Linked DNA regions of Homo sapiens. The protein of the gene in region 2 purifies or fractionates together with the protein of the main gene of each other region. This does not show direct contact. Each region holds a gene or a part of one and is shown on either strand. Other genes may lie near its edges. The genes, in order: ZMYM6 and ZNF18.

Region 1 (9,564 bases), on a different chromosome or scaffold from region 2:
TCAAATCCCCCTGCTGCTTCCATTTATAGTTACCCAAGCTGCTTAGATCTATCTTTTTCCAGCTGGGCACGTTGGCTCACACTTGTAATCCCAGCACTTTGGGAGGCCGAGGCAGGTGGATCACTTGAGGTCAGGAGATAGAGACCAGCCTGACCAATATGGTGAAACCCCGTCTCTACTAAAAAAAATACAATAGACGGGCATGGTGGCACATGCCTGTAACCCCAGCTACTTGGAAGGCTGAGGCAGGAGAATTGTTTGAACCTAGGAGGCAGAGGTTCCAGTGAGCCAAGATCACGCCATTGCACTCCAGCCTGGGCAACAAGAGCAAAACTCCATCTCAAAAAAAAGATCTATCTTTTCCACCTACTCACAACCTTGCAGGGGTAAGTAGCTGGTTGGCTAGAAGACTGAAATGTTCCACTTGCTTCTAAAGGCCAAGCTGTTTCAACATCCAGGTTGTGCTGTTACATTATAAACTGGGCTTCTCATTACCTGCAGTCTTTGTCACTAGTCCAAATTTAATGAAATAACTAAATTTTCTACCCTAGATTATAATTATACATAATTATTTATAACAATCATAATTATTAAATTCCTCAACAAAAAGGGAAAAATTATTAAAACATTTAATCACTGAAAACACAAATCCACATTAGGAAATTATCTTTTAGGATACTTATACAAAACTTAACACAGGATTATTGACTTCACTGTTAAGCAATGTGCATATTGCTACTCTTTCTCCTTCACTAATTTTTCTATCCTTGGAATTAAAGATGTGACTGCAAGTCTTAGGGCAGGGCCAGAACCCAACAGATTTTTTTGTTTTGACTCAGTCAAAGCTGAAAAGGCAGCATCACATAAATAAACAGTTGAAAAGGGTAATAAAAATTTCATTGCCCTTTCATGGAGTTCTGGGTAACTTGTCTTTGCATTTATCCAAAACTGAGTTACAGACACTGATTTAAATAGTGCTTGTAATCCTAAATCTGAAGATAGCTCTGTTAGCTTTTCTTCTTCGAAGTCGGTGAGATTATTATTTTGGTGATTCATAAAAGGGTGAATTATCCACAAATTTCCTGAACGCAAGTCTTGTTCTGGTGGAAAACAGTCACTGAACACTTGAGAAAGTCCTTCCAGGTGCTCAAAAATAATCCTTGTGATGTCTGTCATATTTAAGCCTGATGAATTTGAGAATTCAGAAAATGAAGGGAACATGTCATAATCATTCTCTTGTGTGCGCTTCAACCACATTTTTAACTTTCTCTTAAATACATCAATTTTATTACACAAATTGAAGAAAGTAGTCAAAGTTCCTTGGAGACTTAAATTTAATTCATTTATAAGTGAAAATATATCTGATAAGTAGGCCAGCTTTCCAACCCATTCCTCATCATGAAAATACTTGGCCAAATCTGAATGCTTTTGACTTAAAAATATTTCAATCTCATGTCGTAATTCAAATAATCTTTTTAACATTCTCCCTCTTGATATCCAACGTACTTCAGCATGAAGCGGTAAACTCACATGCTCAGATCCCATCTCTTCACACAAAATTGTTAACATACGTGAATTTAATGCATTGCTCTTTATAAAACTTAAAATTTGTGCTGACTGCAAAAGAATTTTATGTAAACATGGAGACAACTTTTCTGCCACTAAACGTTCACGGTGAATAAAACAATGTGTAAATGCCGCTGTATTCATGGCAACTTCTTGAATTTTTGCTTTTAAACCAGAATACCTGCCAGTCATGCTTGCAGCCCCATCGGTACAGAGACCAACACAATGTTTCCAATTCAGAGATTTACTATCAATATATTTATTTATTAGTTCAAATATTTCAAAGCCAGTTATTTGAGTAGGCATTTCAATGCAAAATAATAATTCTTCTTTTACATCACGACAATCATAATCAATGAAACGAATATAGCACAAAAGAAGTGTGATATTTGAGATTTCTGATGACTCATCTATCTGAAGGGCAAACCACTTTGACTCTCTGACCTTTTGAATCAGCTGGTCTTCAATGTCTGCAGATAGTTCATCAATCCTGTGTTGAATTGTAACATTAGAAAGTGGAATAGTTTTCATTTTGTCTCCAGCACTTGAACCCAAAACTTCTGAACACATTTCTACTAAATATGGTTTAATTAATTCTTCAGCAATGGAGAATGGCTTCTTGCTTGCAGCAGTTTGGAAAGCAATTAAATAAGAAGCTTTCACAAGTGACTTTTCAACTAGTAAACACTTTTTTAAAGAACTATTTTGACATTCCATTTCTAAAGATTTTTGTTCAAAAAAATCTACTGGTTTGTTTTCTAATTCTGAATGTTTTGTCTTCAAATGATGAGAAAGATTTGCTGGCTTCATGTTTTCACTGGATAAGATCTCTCCACAAATGACACACTGTGGCCTTGGTGAACTTTCTTTTGATCCAGGACAGATAATAAAACCAACTTTTAAATATTCTGTATCATAAGTCTGGAAAAAACCTAATCTTTTTTTCTTTGAAGGTGGAGAATCAAGTTCTGCATCATTTTTTTCATTAGGCATAGGTAAATCTGAATGAAATATTTGAATCACTGTTATTTTCAAGAACAAATAAGCAATGTTCTTTATGTATCTCCCCACATATTTAAAATTCATATTTTGTTACTATTTCTATTTATCAAAAGAATGCACTGGTAAAAGTTTAAGCACAAGTCATAATACTTCCAATGATGCTACTGAAAACTGAATTTCTCCTTTGCCCAAAGCTTGATCACTAGGTATAATAAAACTGTAGGATGTGGTACATGTACAAGTAATCCCAAGCACCCAATAGGTTATTGAAATTAGGGCTGAAGACCATGATACACATCAAATTAACAATAAACTTTTTGGCTGAGCAGGGTGGCTCACACCTATAATCCCAGTGCTTTGGGACACCAAGGTGGGTGGGTCACTTGAGCCCTGGAGTTAGAGACCAGCCCGGGCAACATGGCGAAACTCCATCTCTACATTAAAAAAAAAAAAAGAAGAAGAAAAAAAATTGGCTGGATGCAATGGCACACACCTATAGTCCCAGCTACTTGGGTAGCTAAAGCAAGAGGATTGCCTGAGCCCAGGAGGTTGAGCCTGCAGAGAGCCATGATCACACCACTGCACTCTTGAGACTACGTCTCAAAAAAAAACAAAAAGAATAAATTTTTTATTGGTGAGTGACACTGGTGTCAAAAAATTTTTTTAAAGAAAAAGAAAAAAAAGGCCAGGCATGGGGCTCACACCTGTAATCCCAGCACTTTGGGAGGCCAAGGCGGGCAGATCACCTGAGGTCAGGAGTTCGAGACCAGCCAGGCCAACGTGGTGAAACCCCGTCTCTACTAAAAACACAAAATTAGCCAGGCATGGTGGTACATGCCTATAATCTCAGCTACTTGAGAGGCTGAGGCAGGAGAATCGCTTGAACCCGGGAGGCGGAGGTTGCAATGTGCCGAGATCATGTCATTGCACTCCGGCCTGGGAGACAAGAGTGAAACTCCATCTCAAAAAAAAGAAAGAAAAGGAAGAAAAAGAGACAGAAAAATAATGTTTTACTTTCAAACAATCCAGAAAAAAAAAGAAAATAAATATTGCAAAAAGTTAACATTTCATTAATCTGGATGAAGAGTATACTAGTATTGACTGTACTGTATATTCAACCTTTCTGAATTTTGATACTCAGTGTCAGTGAGGTTGTAGAGAAATGGATCCTCCTGAACACTGCTGGTTGGAGCATACATTGATGTAACTTTTCAGGAGGGCAATTTAGGCAACAGGTATCAAAATACTTAAGAATAGATGATAGGCCGGCGCGGTGGCTCACGCTTGTAATCCCAGCACTTTGGGAGGCTGAGGCGGGCACATCATGAGGTCACGAGTTTGAGACCAGCGTTGCCAACACTGTGAAATCCCGTCTCTACTAAAAATACAAAAGAAAATTAGCTGGGCATGGTGGCAGGTGCCTGTAATCCCAGCTACTCAGGAGGCTGAGGTAGGAGAATCGCTTGAACCTGGCAGGTGGAGGTTGCAGTGAGCCGAGATCGCGCCACTACACTCTAGCCTGGGTGACAGAGATAGACTCTGTCTCAAAAACAAAAACAAACAAAAAAAAAGATGATAGTCTTTGAATCAACACTTCCACTGATTAGGATTTATCCTAAGGACATAATTAGGCAAGTGGACAAAGATCCATTAACATAGCTTAACCCAACATTGCTTATAATACAAATATCTAAATTTCCAATCTTAACGGAGTTGGTTATATTATATACACTGAAATCTATGTTAAGAATCTCATACCCAGGTAACAAATCTGCACATGTACCCCCGAATAAAATAAAATAAACATAATAAAATAAAAATTGGAAAAAAATAATCTCAATGTATATTTAAATTTATATTGTTGTGGAATAATGTTTCCAATGCAATGTCAAATGAAAAAGTAATTTCGATTGTTAGAAAACATTCGAGATTTATTCTTTTAAAAGAGACGGAGTTTCACTCTTGTTGCCCAGGTTGGAGCACAATGGCGCGATCTCAGCTCACCGCAACCTCTACCTCCCAGGTTCAAGCGATTCTCCTTCCTCAGCCTCCTGAGTGGCTGGGATTACAGTCCTGTGCCACCATGCCCAGCTAATTTTGTATTTTTAGTAGAGATGGGGTTTCACCATGTTGGTCAGGCTGGTCTCAAACTCCTGACCTCAGGTGATCCGCCCATGTTGGCTTGCCAAAGTGCTGGGATTATAGGCATGAGCCACCACGTCTGACCAACAATTCAATATTTAATCTAGAACTCAAAACATAAGCACACACACACACACAAACATACACACACACATACACACATATAGATGCCCACAGATCCTTTAGTACTCTCCATGTGTGAACGTGTATATAATATAAATTCAGGTACAAATAATATATTGTTTTAATAGGAATATAAAATAAATTTCCTGAGGAAGGAAAACAGGATTCTGCTTGACTTCTACCAAAATAAAGGTACCCTACATAAAAACTTACTACTTGTTGACAGACTAAGCTTTTAAATATAGTGTATTCTATGAAGTAAAATTATTATTAAAAACAAAAATCAGGCCAGGGGCGGTGGCTCATGCCTGTAATCCCAGCACTTTGGGAGGCCGAGGCAGGCAGATCACCTGAGGTCAGGAGTTCAAAACCAGCCTGGTCAAAGTGATGAAACCCCGTCTCTACTAAAAATACAAAAATTAGCCGGGCATGGTGGCAGGCACCTGTAATCCCAGCTGCTCAGGAGGCTGAGACAGGAGAATCGCTTGAACCCAGGAGGCAGAGGTTATAGGGAGCCAAGATCACGCTATTGCACTCCAGCCTGGGCAACAAGAGTGAAACTCCATCTCAAAAAAAACAAACAAACAAACAAAAAAAAACCCAGTGCTTTAGGCACAGTAGACTATTAAAGCAATTGAAAATCTAAGGGTAGTGGGATTAAAAGTAATACTTCACAACTTTTTCAAGTAAAGCTCAAACAATTTTCATCGTCACCAATACCTCAGATAAATTAATTGTACTGTTAGCAACTGACAACTGAATTCGCAGTATTTAAAAAAAAAAACAGGTTAAATCACTAATGCTTTTAACTAAAACTGTATGTTAGTAATTATAATAGCTTGTTATGATAGCTGGTTATTAGTGTTAATAATTATGAAAGCAATAAATTAAGTATTCAAAGCATGTGATCCAAGAAAAGGAATGTTTTCACATTTAAGACTCTGTCAATTATTTTCTTTTCCTTTCTTAAAAAACAAAAACAAACAAGCCAGAAAACAAGCTTTGTACATGGGAACGCACAAGGATACATACCTGTCTGACATTCTTTGTGCTGTGTATGTGGTTTGCAAGAAGTGGCCTTGGTCTGTGTGACGGGTTTGCATGATATGCCTTTGTTCTTTAAAAGCCTGGAAGGCTGGGAAGATTGGGAAGATGGAAATTTCATAGCATCTTCCTGTGTACTTTCCTAGTTAAAAGCAAATTCAGAAACCAAAGAAAGATTTTTTTTAGTACCTTATCACTGACTATAATTGCTATCAATTGAAAGTTCATATACATCAAGAGAAATATAATTCCTCTGAAAGAGTGGTTGCAATAAAAAAGTCACCTTGGAAAATACACACAGATTCCTACTTCTCCCAATCAGTATTAGTTTAATTTACTGATTTTAAAAAACATTTATAAATATAAATATAAAAATATATTTATAAACTATAAATATAAAAATATATTTATAAACTATAAATATAAAAATATATTTGTAAATATAAAAATAAAAATATACTTATAAACTATAAAAATAAAAATATACTTATAAACTATAAATATAAAAATATACTTATAAACTATAAATATAAAAATATACTTATAAACTATAAATATAAAAATATACTTATAAACTATAAATATAAAAATATACTTATAAACTATAAATATAAAAATATATTTATAAACTATAAATATAAAAATTATACATATAATATATATTTTTAAAATAAGTATGATCAAAACAATGAAAACAATTGTTAATCTTGCTGATTAGGACAACTGGCTACTCAGAAAAATTAGATCCAACCTCAGACCATACACAAAAATATATTCCACATCAATTAAAGATCTCAGGGAAAAAAAAAGAACTAAAGTCACTAGAGAACTTTCAAATAAACAGATCACAAAGTATTCTTTTCTTTTTTCTTTTTTTTTTTTTTGAGACGGAGTCTCACTCTGTCACTCAGGCTGGAGTACAGTGACACAATCTCAGCTCACTGCAACCTTCGCCTCCCAGGTTCAAGCAGTTCTTGTGCCTCAGCCTCCTGAGTAGCTGGGACCACAGGCGTGCGCCACCACGCCTGGCTAATTTTTTATATTTTTAGTAGAGATGGTGTTTCACCATGTTGGCCAGGCTGGTCTCAAACTCCTGACCTCGTGATCCGCCCACCTCGGCCTCCCAAAGTGCTGGGATTACAGGCGTGAGCCACCACTCCCAGCTGGGATCACAAAGTATTCTTAAATAAAACACAAAAGAGTAAATCAAAGTAGAAAAGACTGATACATTTGACTACCTCAAAATTTAAAACTGCTCAGATGATCCAGGATAATCTCCCTATTTTAAGGTTAGCTGATTAGGAACCCTAATGCCACTTGCTACCTTAATTCACCTTTGCCATGTAATGTAACATATTCACAGATTCTGTGGACAAGGACATGGACATCTTTGGGGGGCTACTATTCTGCCTATCATAATAAAGCTCTTAAAAAGTAAATTAATTTTTTTTTTTTTGAGACGGAGTCTCGCTCTGTCACCCAGGCTGGAATGCAGTGGCATGATCTCAGCTCACTGCAACCTCTGCCTCCTGGATTCATGCCATTCTCCTGCCTCAGCCTCCTGAGTAGCTGGGACTACAAGCACCCGCCACCACGCCCGGCTAATTTTTTTTGCATTTTTAGTAGAGATGGGATTTCACCGTGTTAGCCAGGATGGTCTCAATCTCCTGACCTCGTGATCCACCCACCTTGGCCTCCCAAAGTGCTGGGACTACAGGCGTAAGCCACCGTGCCCGGCCAAAAAGTAAAGTTTTTTAATCCAAAAAAAAAAAAAACTTCTGTAAACAAAGGTCTTTATAAAACAAAGTTATAGGGCAAACAACAGAGTGGAGGAATGTACTTAAAACATGTGTATTCACTCAATATTTATTTCCTGAATGTTTACTACAAGCCAGGCACTGTTCTAAGCCGTGGAGATACCGCAGAAAACAAGACAAAGTTCTGCTCATATGAGCCTTACATTCTAGAGGAAGACACAAAAAATAAACAAGTAAAACAAATAATATATAATTCTAGGTAGTGATAAGTGCGATGAAGAAAATAAAGCAGCGTACAGGAATGGAGAGTGATGGCATGGAGGAGGGGCAATTCTGAAGTAAACATCTGAGCAGAGACCTTTTGAATTATTCAAAAGAGTAAGCCATGCAAAGGTCTAAGGTCTGAAGAGTCCAGGCAGGCAGACTATAGGTGCAAAAACCCTGAAGTGGGAGAAAGCTTGGCATGCTTTAGGAACATCAACAAGAACAAGGCTGAAAGACAGTAAGCAAGGGGAGAATGATACATTTGGAGAGGTAGGCAGAAACTAAATTGTATAGGATCTGGAAGGTCTCAGTCAAAAACAAAATTAGGATTGTATTTTAAATGTGATGGGAAGCCATTGGAGGTTATATTTAAATTTAATTTAAACAAAAGTAATACATGAACTCAGTGCAAAATTCAAAATGTACAGAAGTATTGCGTTGGTACAAAAATAATTGTGGTTTTTGCAATTAAAGTAATATACACATGAATGACTGCCGTCCACCCAGACTCAACCTTGAACACAACCACTGTTCCCAGTTTCTTATACAGTTGTTCCCCCTTATCTGCCGGGAATATGTTCCAAGACCCCCAGTGGTTGCCTGAAACCATGGATCATACCGAAGCCTATACACACATGTATATATGTGTGTATATATAGACATATATATATATATGTATACATATATCCATAATATATCATAATATGGATATATACATATCTATATGTATATATGTATACATATATACTTACATACGTATATATATGTAATATATATACTTACATACGTATATATATGTAATATATATACTTACATACGTATATATGTATGTATATACGTAAGTATATATGTATACATATACATATATACACACACACACATACACACACACATATGTATGTGTGTATATATATATATAATTCCAGGTAGTGGTAAGTGCTAAGTGCTCTCTCTCTATATATATACATATGTATATATGTATATAGGGTTTGGTATGATTCATGGTTTCAGGCAACCACTGTGTTGCCTGAAATATGTCTACAGGATTGTATACACATATACAATATATGTATATACGTTGTATATGTATATATGTTGCCTCTATGTATATAGGGTTCTATATATATATACACACACACACACAATGTTTTTTCTATACATATATACCTATGATAAAGTTTTATTTATAAATTAGGCATAAGAGGTTAACAGTAACTACTAAATAGAACAATTATAACAATATACTATAATAAAAATTATGTGAAGGTACTCTCTCTCAAAATATCTTAATGTGCTGTACTCATCCTTCTTCTTGTGACCTGATAACTGAGATGGCTACTGACTAGTGATGGGTAGTACACACAGTGTGGATATGCTAGACAGAGATGATTTACATCCCAGGCAGAATGGCATGAGATTTCATCGTGCTACTCAGAATGGCACACAATTTAAAACTTACGAATTGTTTATTTCCGGAATTTTCCATTTAATATTTTCAAGCCACAGATAAGTGGCACTACTATATATCCTTCTAGAGATGGTGTATGTAATTAAACAAAGTTGCTTCTGACTACAAAGTGTAGCCTATTATTACCAAGATTCAGAACCTTGCTCTTGTCACTTAGCAAACTATCTTGGAGGTCCATTTACATAACATTGTATAAAG
Region 2 (9,564 bases):
GCGTGAGCCACTGCGCTCAGACCTGGGTTTCTTTTTAAGCAAAAAATAAATTTAATGAGGACCACATAAAAAACATTTGGTATTGGATTACGGTTGCAAGGGTCCATTTATACAAGGATTTTCATCTGCCTCTGTGACTCCTGCGACTGCAAGACCAACCCTTCCTTCTCCTTCTCCTGTTCCTTGTCCTCTTCAGGCTACTCAGTGTGAAGATGATGAAGGTGACCACCTTTATGGTGATTCACTTCCACTTAGTGAATAGTAAATGTAGTTTCTCTTCCTTATAATTTTCTTTTTCTTTTTTTTTTGAGACGGAGTCTCGCTCTGTCGCCCAGGTTGGAGTGCAGTGGCACGATCTCAGCTCACTGCAAGCTCTGCCTCCCAGGTTCATGCCATTCTCCTGCCTCAGCCTCCCGAGTAGCTGGGATCACAGGCGCCCGCCACCACGCCTGGCTAATTTTTTGTATTTTTAGTAGAGAAGGGGTTTCACCGTGTTAGCCAGGATGGTCTCGATCTCCTGACCTTGTGATCCAGCCACCTCAGCCTCCCAAAGTGCTGGGATTACAGGCGTGAGCCACCTGGCCTGGCCTCTTCCTTATAATTTTCTTAATAATATTTTGTCTAACTTACTTTATCACAAAAATACAGTAACATGCAAAATGTATGTTAATCAACTATTTAAGGCATCAGTCAATAGACTGCTAAGCTTTTGGGGAATCAGAAGTTATATATGGATTTTCTACTGTGTGGGGGGTTGGCGCCCCTATCTCCTGCATTATTCAATGGTCAACTGTAATTCTTTTGACTTCGCTTTTTCCTTTCTCAGGCCCTTGAAAAAAAATTGTTTTTCTTTTTTAGTTTTTAAATGATTTTCCAATGTCGGATAAATTATTTTGGTGAAACGGTAAGGATGAAGACATTGTTTCCTACACCTTAAGAAATAAGCAGCTACAAAAAGCTAGAGTATTGTACTGATCTCTGATTAAGCCAGATCCTCAAGTGATGGGGTATCTTTTTTTAAAAATTGCTGTGATTAGTCTTAGGGAGAAATGATGACCACCAAATTCTTCATAACATTTAAGGATTTACCCAGTAATCCTATATTGTGATTACTTGCAAGAAAGTTAACTAGAAGTAGTGGATGATCCTTTTTAGAATAATATTATTTGCGATTTAATATTTCTCTTTCTACTGTCTTAGTTGTGATCTTCTAAAATTTGATACCATTCACATAAAATAGTGATTATTTATATCAACACCATAGGAGTATTTTCAAGGTAGTTAGTCTTCTCAACCCTCTTTTTTTTTTTTTTTTTTTTTTTTGTGAGACGGAGTCTCTCTCTGTCCCCCAGGCTGGAGTGCAGTGGCGCGATCTTGGCTCACTGCAAGCTCCACCTCCTGGGTTCACCCCATTCTTCTGCCTCAGCCTCCTGAGTAGCTGGGACTACAGGTGCCCGCCACCATGCCCGGCTAATTTTTTGTATTTTTTTTTAGTAGAGACGGGGTTTCACCGTGTTAACCAGGATGGTTTCGATCTCCTGACCACGTGATCCACCTGCCTCGGCCTCCCAAAGTGCTGGGATTACAGGCGTGAGCCACCATGCCCAGCCTTCTCACCCTCTTTAACCCCAAGGTTGAAAGTGTCAGGTATGATACTTGTTTTTTTCATAAATTCTCAAATAGACCTATTTTAATATGGCACTCAAAAGACCTCTCTTGGAAGTTTCATTACACCTTTTTGGTATACTTTTGGAAGTACTTTTGGTACCTTTTGGAAGACTTAACTTGTTCTCTTTAACCTCCTATTTATTACAGAAGCATGTAGGCATTAGCTTTTATTCCTAGGGCATTAATATCTTTTTCCAGCTTTATTTTTTAGTATGCAGATATATAGATGAAGATGTAGAAGTGTTTTGTAGAAGAGCCGTTTACCTGGAAACCTATAGTGAAAAAGTTTCGTATGGTGCATTTTATTCTTCATTTTGTCTGGACATTTGAAGACCAAGAAAGAACATTATAAAATGGGCAGGGAAATGGTGGCTGTTTAGATACAGTATCAGTAGTTTGCTTTGTGGCTTCAAGTTTATAATCTTTCAAAATAGAATCGTGTATCCATTGAGCAATTTCAAAAGCTCCATAGTTGACCCCATGGCTTCTCGGGTAGGGCATGTGAATTTGTTCTTTCTGAAAATGTGTCCCCTTCCTCTGTGTAGCACTCAATCTCATTCCCTTTTTAGTGTCCTGGTGAAGACCTAGTTCTTGCCGGAGACAATTCCACTGCAGAAGCACTTTACTTAAAAGGACTTGCCAGGCTGGACAATGCCCGTTGACTTGGGGCAGGCCCTAGGCCTGCTGCCATCGCTGGCGAAGGCCGAGGACTCCCAGTTCTCAGAATCAGATGCTGCCCTTCAAGAGGAACTCTCCAGCCCTGAGACCGCACGCCAGCTTTTCAGGCAGTTCCGTTACCAGGTGATGTCTGGGCCTCATGAGACCTTGAAGCAACTTCGGAAGCTCTGTTTCCAGTGGCTACAGCCAGAGGTTCACACCAAAGAGCAGATCCTAGAGATCCTCATGTTGGAGCAGTTTCTGACCATCCTGCCTGGGGAGATCCAGATGTGGGTGCGGAAACAGTGTCCAGGAAGTGGAGAAGAGGCAGTGACCCTTGTGGAAAGCTTGAAGGGGGACCCCCAGAGACTGTGGCAATGGGTAAGCAGAGGGTATTATGATCTGCGAGTGAAACACAGGGCTCCTCTCTGGTCCCATCAGGTGTGTTGTCTTTTTTCTGATACCACTTATGACACAAAATGGGTGGGGCTTTTCACACCAATGGCCAATTCTGTGATTCTCTAACACCAGTACAGTGTCCAGCAATTCAGTTCTGAAGCTAACTCTGGAGGTTCAGGGCTCAATCCAAGACTGCTCCTGTTCTCAGATGCCAGTCACAAGTCCCAGGGGCCACCTGTACTTCTGACAAATTGGCTATAAATTCGGAGGTTCCCACAGTCTTCTCTTCAAGTTTGATAATTAGTTAGAATGACTTACAGAACTCAGGGAAGGATTTTACTTCCTGTTACTGACTTACTCTAAAGGATACAACTCATTAACAGCCAGAGAGAAGAGCTGCATAGAGCAAGGTGTGGGGGAAAGAGCGTGGAGCTTCCATGCTTCTCCTGGCGTGCTACGTTACCAGTACCTCCATGAGGTCACCAACCTGGAAGCTTCCTGAACCTCATGGTTTAGGGATTTTTATGGAGGCTTCACTGCTTTGGCACACTTGATACAGTCATTTGCCGTTGGTGATTGAGTATCTCCAGCTGCCCTCCCCTCCTCAGAAGCTGGGTGGAGATACTGAAAGTTCCAACCTTTTAATCTCAAGGTTGGTTCCTCTGGCAACCAGCCCCCATCCTGAAGCTATCTAGGAGCCTAGCATAAACTCAGGTGTGGTTGAGAAGGGCTCCTTATGAATAACAAAGACTCTTCTTTCACCTGTCCCTCAAGAAATTACCAGGGTTTTAGGAGCTCTGCGGGAATGGGAACTGGGGACAAAGACTAAATGTGTATTTCTTATTATACCACAGCTGGGTTCCCCCATACCTCACGTAATTCTAACACTCTCTGACTCTCAACACTCTTTAGCTATTGAGGATTGAGGGTAAAGTCTCCCAGCGCATTCCACCTTTAGACTAGAATGTTTGAGAAGTTATTTAAAAGATGCCTGAGTTTTCATTGGTGGCGCATATCCAGTAGAAGCACGTTAGTGGCATGTCTTGAAGGTCTCCCACGCCTGATTCGGGCCTCAGCTTTTGGTGTCTTTTGGGACGTTTCTTTCCCTGGTTCCTGCTGGACTAGAAATAAAAGCTGGTTTTCTCTTTCTCCACATCCTTAGAAATTGTCTTATGATCTGTTGTAGAGAGTAAGCTTTGTGTCTTTTAGAGATCCTTACTCTGGATTCTTCAGTAATTACTAATTAATATATGGTCTCTAGATCAGTATCCAGGTTCTAGGACAGGACATCTTATCAGAGAAGATGGAATCTCCAAGCTGCCAAGTGGGGGAAGTGGAGCCCCATCTTGAAGTGGTGCCTCAGGAGTTGGGACTTGAGAATTCATCCTCAGGGCCTGGGGAGCTTCTGAGCCACATCGTGAAAGAGGAATCTGACACAGAAGCAGAACTAGGTGAGGATGGTGCTGTGTGGTGTTCTCTTGGAGAGATTTTGGGATTGTGATTAGTAGGCCTAAGTGAGTTGAAATGGTATGCTGCTCAGATTGGCGTATCCCTGAGAGGTTTGCAAACAGGTTAGACCTAAATAAACCGCTCTTGTTTGGAGAGTCAAAGTCTGTGTTTTAAACTGCTTTATGACTGGGCCAGACCATTTGGATTTTGGCTCTGAGGAAGGAGGTGGGAGAACATATGGGTGAGACTGGAATGTTGGAGGGGGTTGGAGTGTGTCAGGGAGATAAACACAAGTCTTGAAATATAGATGGCAGTACAGGTATTGTTCAGGTATTGTTCTGATTTGTGAAGATTGTTATCTGCGCCCTCTGGGGAGTGGTTAAGGAAGACATCCAGATTCTGAAAACTTCCTCTCCTCACTTCAGCCCTGGCTGCCTCCCAGCCTGCCCGACTGGAGGAAAGGCTGATCAGAGACCAGGACCTCGGAGCCTCACTGCTCCCAGCAGCACCTCAGGTGAGCTGACGTACAAAAGCGATGAAAAGGAAACTTTTTACCTTTTATAATCTCATCCTCCTGCTTCTCTTCACCCCATTCTCCATCCTGAGGAAACCTCTGATCTGCTGTCTGTCACCATATGTTAGTTTACTTTTTCTAGAGTTTTGTAAAAATAGAATCATGCCAAATGTACTCTTATCTTTGTTCTTATGCATATAATGTGTATATATATACATATATATATATTTGCTTATTTCAGTGTATTCTCATTTTTTAAAACAATTTGATTTTGATGTGCCTTGGAGTCATTTTCACATTTCATGTAATTGGGATTTATTGAGTTTCCTAGCTCTGTGGGTGTATGGTTTTCACTAAACTTGGAAAATTTTTGGCCATTATTTCTAAAGCATTTTTTTTTCTGTCTCGCTTATTTCTCCTCTCCTTTAAGGACTTGGGAAATAATACCTGTGGAATGTGTATAATGATAATGTATATACATGTATCAGAGCTCTTCAAGTTGTCCCACAGCTTACTGATTGTTTTTCTGTTTTTGAAGTCTTGGTGTTTTATTTTGGACAATTTCTGTATGTCTTAAAGTTCATTAATCTTTTCTTTTATAGTATCTGATCTGCTGTTAATCTCATCCAGTATATTTTTCATTCTGTTATTGAAGTCTTGGTCTTTTATTTTGGACAATTTCTGTTTGTCTTCAAGTTCATTAATCTTTTCTTTTATAGTATCTGATCTGCTGTTAATCTCATCCAGTATATTTTTCATTCTGTTTTTGAAGTCTTGGTGTTTCATTTAGGACAGTTTCTATTTTGATGTCTTTAAGTTCATTAGTCTTTTCATCTCACAGCATCTAATCTGCTGTTAATCTCTTCCAGTATATTTTTCATTTTAGATGAATTTTTCACCTCTAGAAGTTTGATTTGGGGCTTTATTGTATCTTTCATGTCTATACTTAATGTGTTCAATTTTTTCTCTAGCTTCTTGAACATATGGAATATAGTTGTATTTGTATTAATATCCTTATCTACTGATTACTACCTGCATTGGTTCTGGGTCAGTTTTGATCAATGATTATTCTCATTATGAGATGTATTTTCCCACTTCTTTGTATGCCTGGTAATCTTTGTCTTTTTCGTTTGTTTTGAGACAGGGTTTCACTTTGTCTCCCAGGCTAGAGTGCAGTTGTGCAGTCATAGCTCACTGCAGCCTTGACCTCCCGGGCTCAAACCATACTCCTGCCTCAGCCTCCTGAGTAGCTAGAACTACAGGCATGTGCCACAATGCTTGGCTAATTTTTTTTTTTTTTTTTGAGACAGGGTCTTGCTGTGTTGCCTAGGCTGGAGTGCAGTGGCGCGATCTCAGCTCACTACAACCTCCGACTTCTTGGTTCAAGCAATTCTCCTGCCTCAGTCTCCTGAGTAGCTGGGATTACAGGCGTGTGCCACCATGCCTGACTAATTTTTGTATTTTTAGTAGAGATGGGGTTTCACCATGTTGACCAGGCTGGTCTCGAACTCCTGACCTCAAGTGATCCACCCAGCTGGGTCTCCCAGAGTGCTGGGATTACAGGCGGGAGCCACCATGCCCGGCCTGCTTGGCTAATTTTTAAATTTTTGTGTGTCTTACTATGTTGCCCGTGCCTGGTAATCTTTGATTGGGTATCACATTGGTGGGGTGCTATATATTTTTGTATTACTATAAATGTTCTTGAACTTTGCTATGGGGTGCAGTTATTTGGACACAGTTTATTACATGGCACCAGAGAAACATTTAGTCGAGGATTATTCTTTCCATGCTAAGGCACTTCCCTTCTGAGTATTCTGAGTAATCTGATGCCCCTTCATATACCAGGTTTTCCACTTTGCCTGGTGGAAATACGAACTGTTTCCAGCACTGTGTGAACTCAGGGGATTGTTCCCTCTGATTCTTTTGGGTGGTTATTTTCCAGACTTTGCGGGGACGCTCTGTAGATCTCTGGAGCTTTCTCTTTGTGCAGTTTCCTTCTCTCCAGTTTTTCTACCCTGTCGATTCTAAGGATCTTGGCATTTCCAGACTCTGAGCTCCTTCTGCTCAACTCAGGGAGGCTGCCTGGCTCAGCCTGGGTTTCCCTTCCTGTGCTGCTGCCTGGATCCTCTGTCTAGGCAGTAAGTTTGGATAACTAGAGCTCACTGAATTTGCTTTCCCACTTTCAGGGATCTTGTTCTGCTCTGCTTGTGTAATGTGAAATGTCTGAAAACTATTGTTTCATACATTTTGTCCCATTTTTAGTTGTTTCAGGCAGAAGGTAAATTCAACAATTCCTAATACTTCATTTTTGCTTGTACATAAAAGTCTCTGGGACAGATTTATGTTGATATTTAGTTAACAATTTTGAAAAGTTGTATTTTGTAAAAAATTTTTTTTTCACGAACCTATACATCTTAATTAAAACATCATTTAAAACGTTGAAGGAACTCCTCTTGGGACTTGCCTTGCAATCTGCTGTAGCGTGAATATGAAAATAGAGAAGGCAGTAGGTAATGCTGTGTTTCAGACCAGGGTCTGAGCTTCAGCTCTCCAGGCTCAGATATATAAAAACTAGAATACCAATTTCATAGTTTACTCTGGGGGAAGGTGGATGGGGAGGTGGCAGGGGAGAGAAATATCTTTTTAGTGAATCAAAGGTACCCTTCTGCCTGCTTTCAAGGTGCCCAGAAACCAAATTGTTAAGCAAGATGTTGCTTGGTGAAAAAGATTTGGGTGTTCTGTGGAATATGTCAACCAGGCTTGGAGGATTATTGTTGTTTCTGTAGTAGGTACAGAGTATCCTCACCTGTTCTGGATAACTTAAAGTCAAAAGATTTAAAATGCTCATCAGCACCAATTTGTTTTTTACAACCGTATTTACATATATATGTGTGTCTGTATTTCCCTACCTTCAGATGATAACTAGTTAGCAACCATTTAAGTCAAATGAACAAAAGTTGTCCCTACCCAATCTGAATATCCCCTCCAAACTAACAGCAATTATTTGCATCAGAAAGACTTTGATATTTAATGGAATCCTTTGGAAGTAAAAGGAATTTTTAAATTAATCACTCCCTCTAATCTCTTAAATAAGTGAGGAACTTCATAAATAATGCCAGAATAATGATACGGTATTACTATCAGTACACAGTAGTTATTTCATTAGTGGAAACCATGACTCGGTTGGAACCTCACATAGACTCCAGCAGTGCATTTACTCACCTTCCCCTGTTTTCAGACTTAAAGGAAAGGAACAGCGTGTAACTAAGTGTAAGTCAGTTGTAATATCTTATAAACCCACAAGATGGTGCCAGTTCCACACAAAAATAGAATTTTCCCATCAAATCCCATGTGTCTGTCTTTCAGGATAGAAAGTTAGGTTTTTCCGTCTCTTCTAAATATGAGAAAGAGGCAAGCTGGCTGCCATTGGCGTCTTGCCTCTTCAGTAGGAGGTTTTATTCGAAGTACCCAGCTTCTTGGCAGTTTCTTGAGTAAATTTGTGTTTTTAAGCTGGAGGTACCCTGTTAGTGCTCCTGAAGCAACTTTTCTGGTTTTTGAGTGAGCTGATTTTGACCCTTGGGGGTTTTGGTGGCTGTATCCTTTTCTGCCTTGTACTCTTCTTGGTAGTTACTGTTCTGGTGTTCATGGAATAGATCCTGTGTCAGCAAGCCAGGCAGCCAGGCAGATATTACTGTGCTTGGCAAGTGCATCCTTTTCTCTGCTAGCACTGAAGCCAAGGTCCATGTGTTCTGACCACAAAGACTGAGAACTCCTGTGTTCAGCAATGTTTGCTCAAGTGATTATTTTCAGGAGGTTGTTAAAATAGCTGCATTCACAGAAGATTAACAGAATAAGCTGCTAGCTGTTTATACTTTAAAAATTAAAAAATTTAAATTAAAGTTCACATTAAAAATGTGGTTATAGTTAATAGTTGACTGTGTAATTCAGTATATTGAGGTCGCTTTTCAGCTTCCTATCCTTCCCACCCAAAAAAGTCCAAACCCTCTTTCGTTTGTGTGTTTGGCTTAGCACCTGCTAATTGAACAGTTTTTGGTATCTCTTTTCTCCTTGAGCCATTTCCACTTCCCTTTGATGTGCTAGGGGGCAGACTTGACTTAGGACTGAGAGTGTATTAGTCCGTTTTCACACCGCTGATAAAGACATACCTGAGAATGGGCAGTTTACAAAAGAAAGAGGTTTAATTGGACTTACAATTCCATATGGCTGGGGAGGCCCCCAATCATGGTGGAAGGCAAGGAGGAGCAAGTCACATCTTTCAAGGATGGCGGCAGGCAAAGAGAGAGCTTGTGCAGGCAAACTCCCATTTTTAAAGCCATCGGATGTTATCTTATTCACTATGATGAGAACAGCACAGGAAAGAACTGCCCACTTGGTTCAGTTATCTCCCACCAGGTCCCTCTCACAATACATGGGAATTATGGGAGCTACAAGATGAGATTTGGGTGGGGACACAGAGCCAAATCATATCAGAGAGTGCCTTCCCCAAACAGTATATTGTGTACAGTAGGAGGATGACTTTGTAGTTCCTTTCCTCATTTCTATTCCCTGAAGCCTGGCTATTCATGTCTATCCACTTTGCGGTTTCTGAAAGTGTGCAGAATCCCTTAATTCTCTCTGCAAACCCTTGGGGTGAGACTGGGAGACTGCATGTGATGGTAATAATATATATTATCTACTGAGGACCTGTTTGCTAAGGGCTTTATTTCACCCTGGTAACATATATCAAGTGCCTCTTCTGTCCTGGACAGGGTCTTGGGAACTGGGAAGGTATTATACAATGGAGAGGATGACAGAGTCCTTTTCTCATGGAGCTTACATTGCTAGTAGAGGCAACAGTTAATCAAATACTTACATGT

Evidence for each region.
Region 1: the proteins of ZNF18 (region 2) and ZMYM6 purify together in Homo sapiens (affinity purification with mass spectrometry; 2 studies listed by BioGRID and IntAct, with this or other methods). This does not show direct contact.

The regions. Positions count from the first base shown.
Region 1 is NC_000001.11:34,986,369-34,995,932, forward strand, and holds part of ZMYM6 (zinc finger MYM-type protein 6), read right to left. Parts: intron 6,020-9,564; coding exon 5,866-6,019; intron 2,568-5,865; coding exon 736-2,567; 3' UTR 1-735. UniProt on the Homo sapiens protein: Plays a role in the regulation of cell morphology and cytoskeletal organization.
Region 2 is NC_000017.11:11,985,585-11,995,148, reverse strand, and holds part of ZNF18 (zinc finger protein 18), read left to right. Parts: exon of another isoform or gene 1-1,647; intron 1,648-2,237; 5' UTR 2,238-2,319; coding exon 2,320-2,706; intron 2,707-3,985; coding exon 3,986-4,175; intron 4,176-4,598; coding exon 4,599-4,687; intron 4,688-9,564. UniProt on the Homo sapiens protein: May be involved in transcriptional regulation.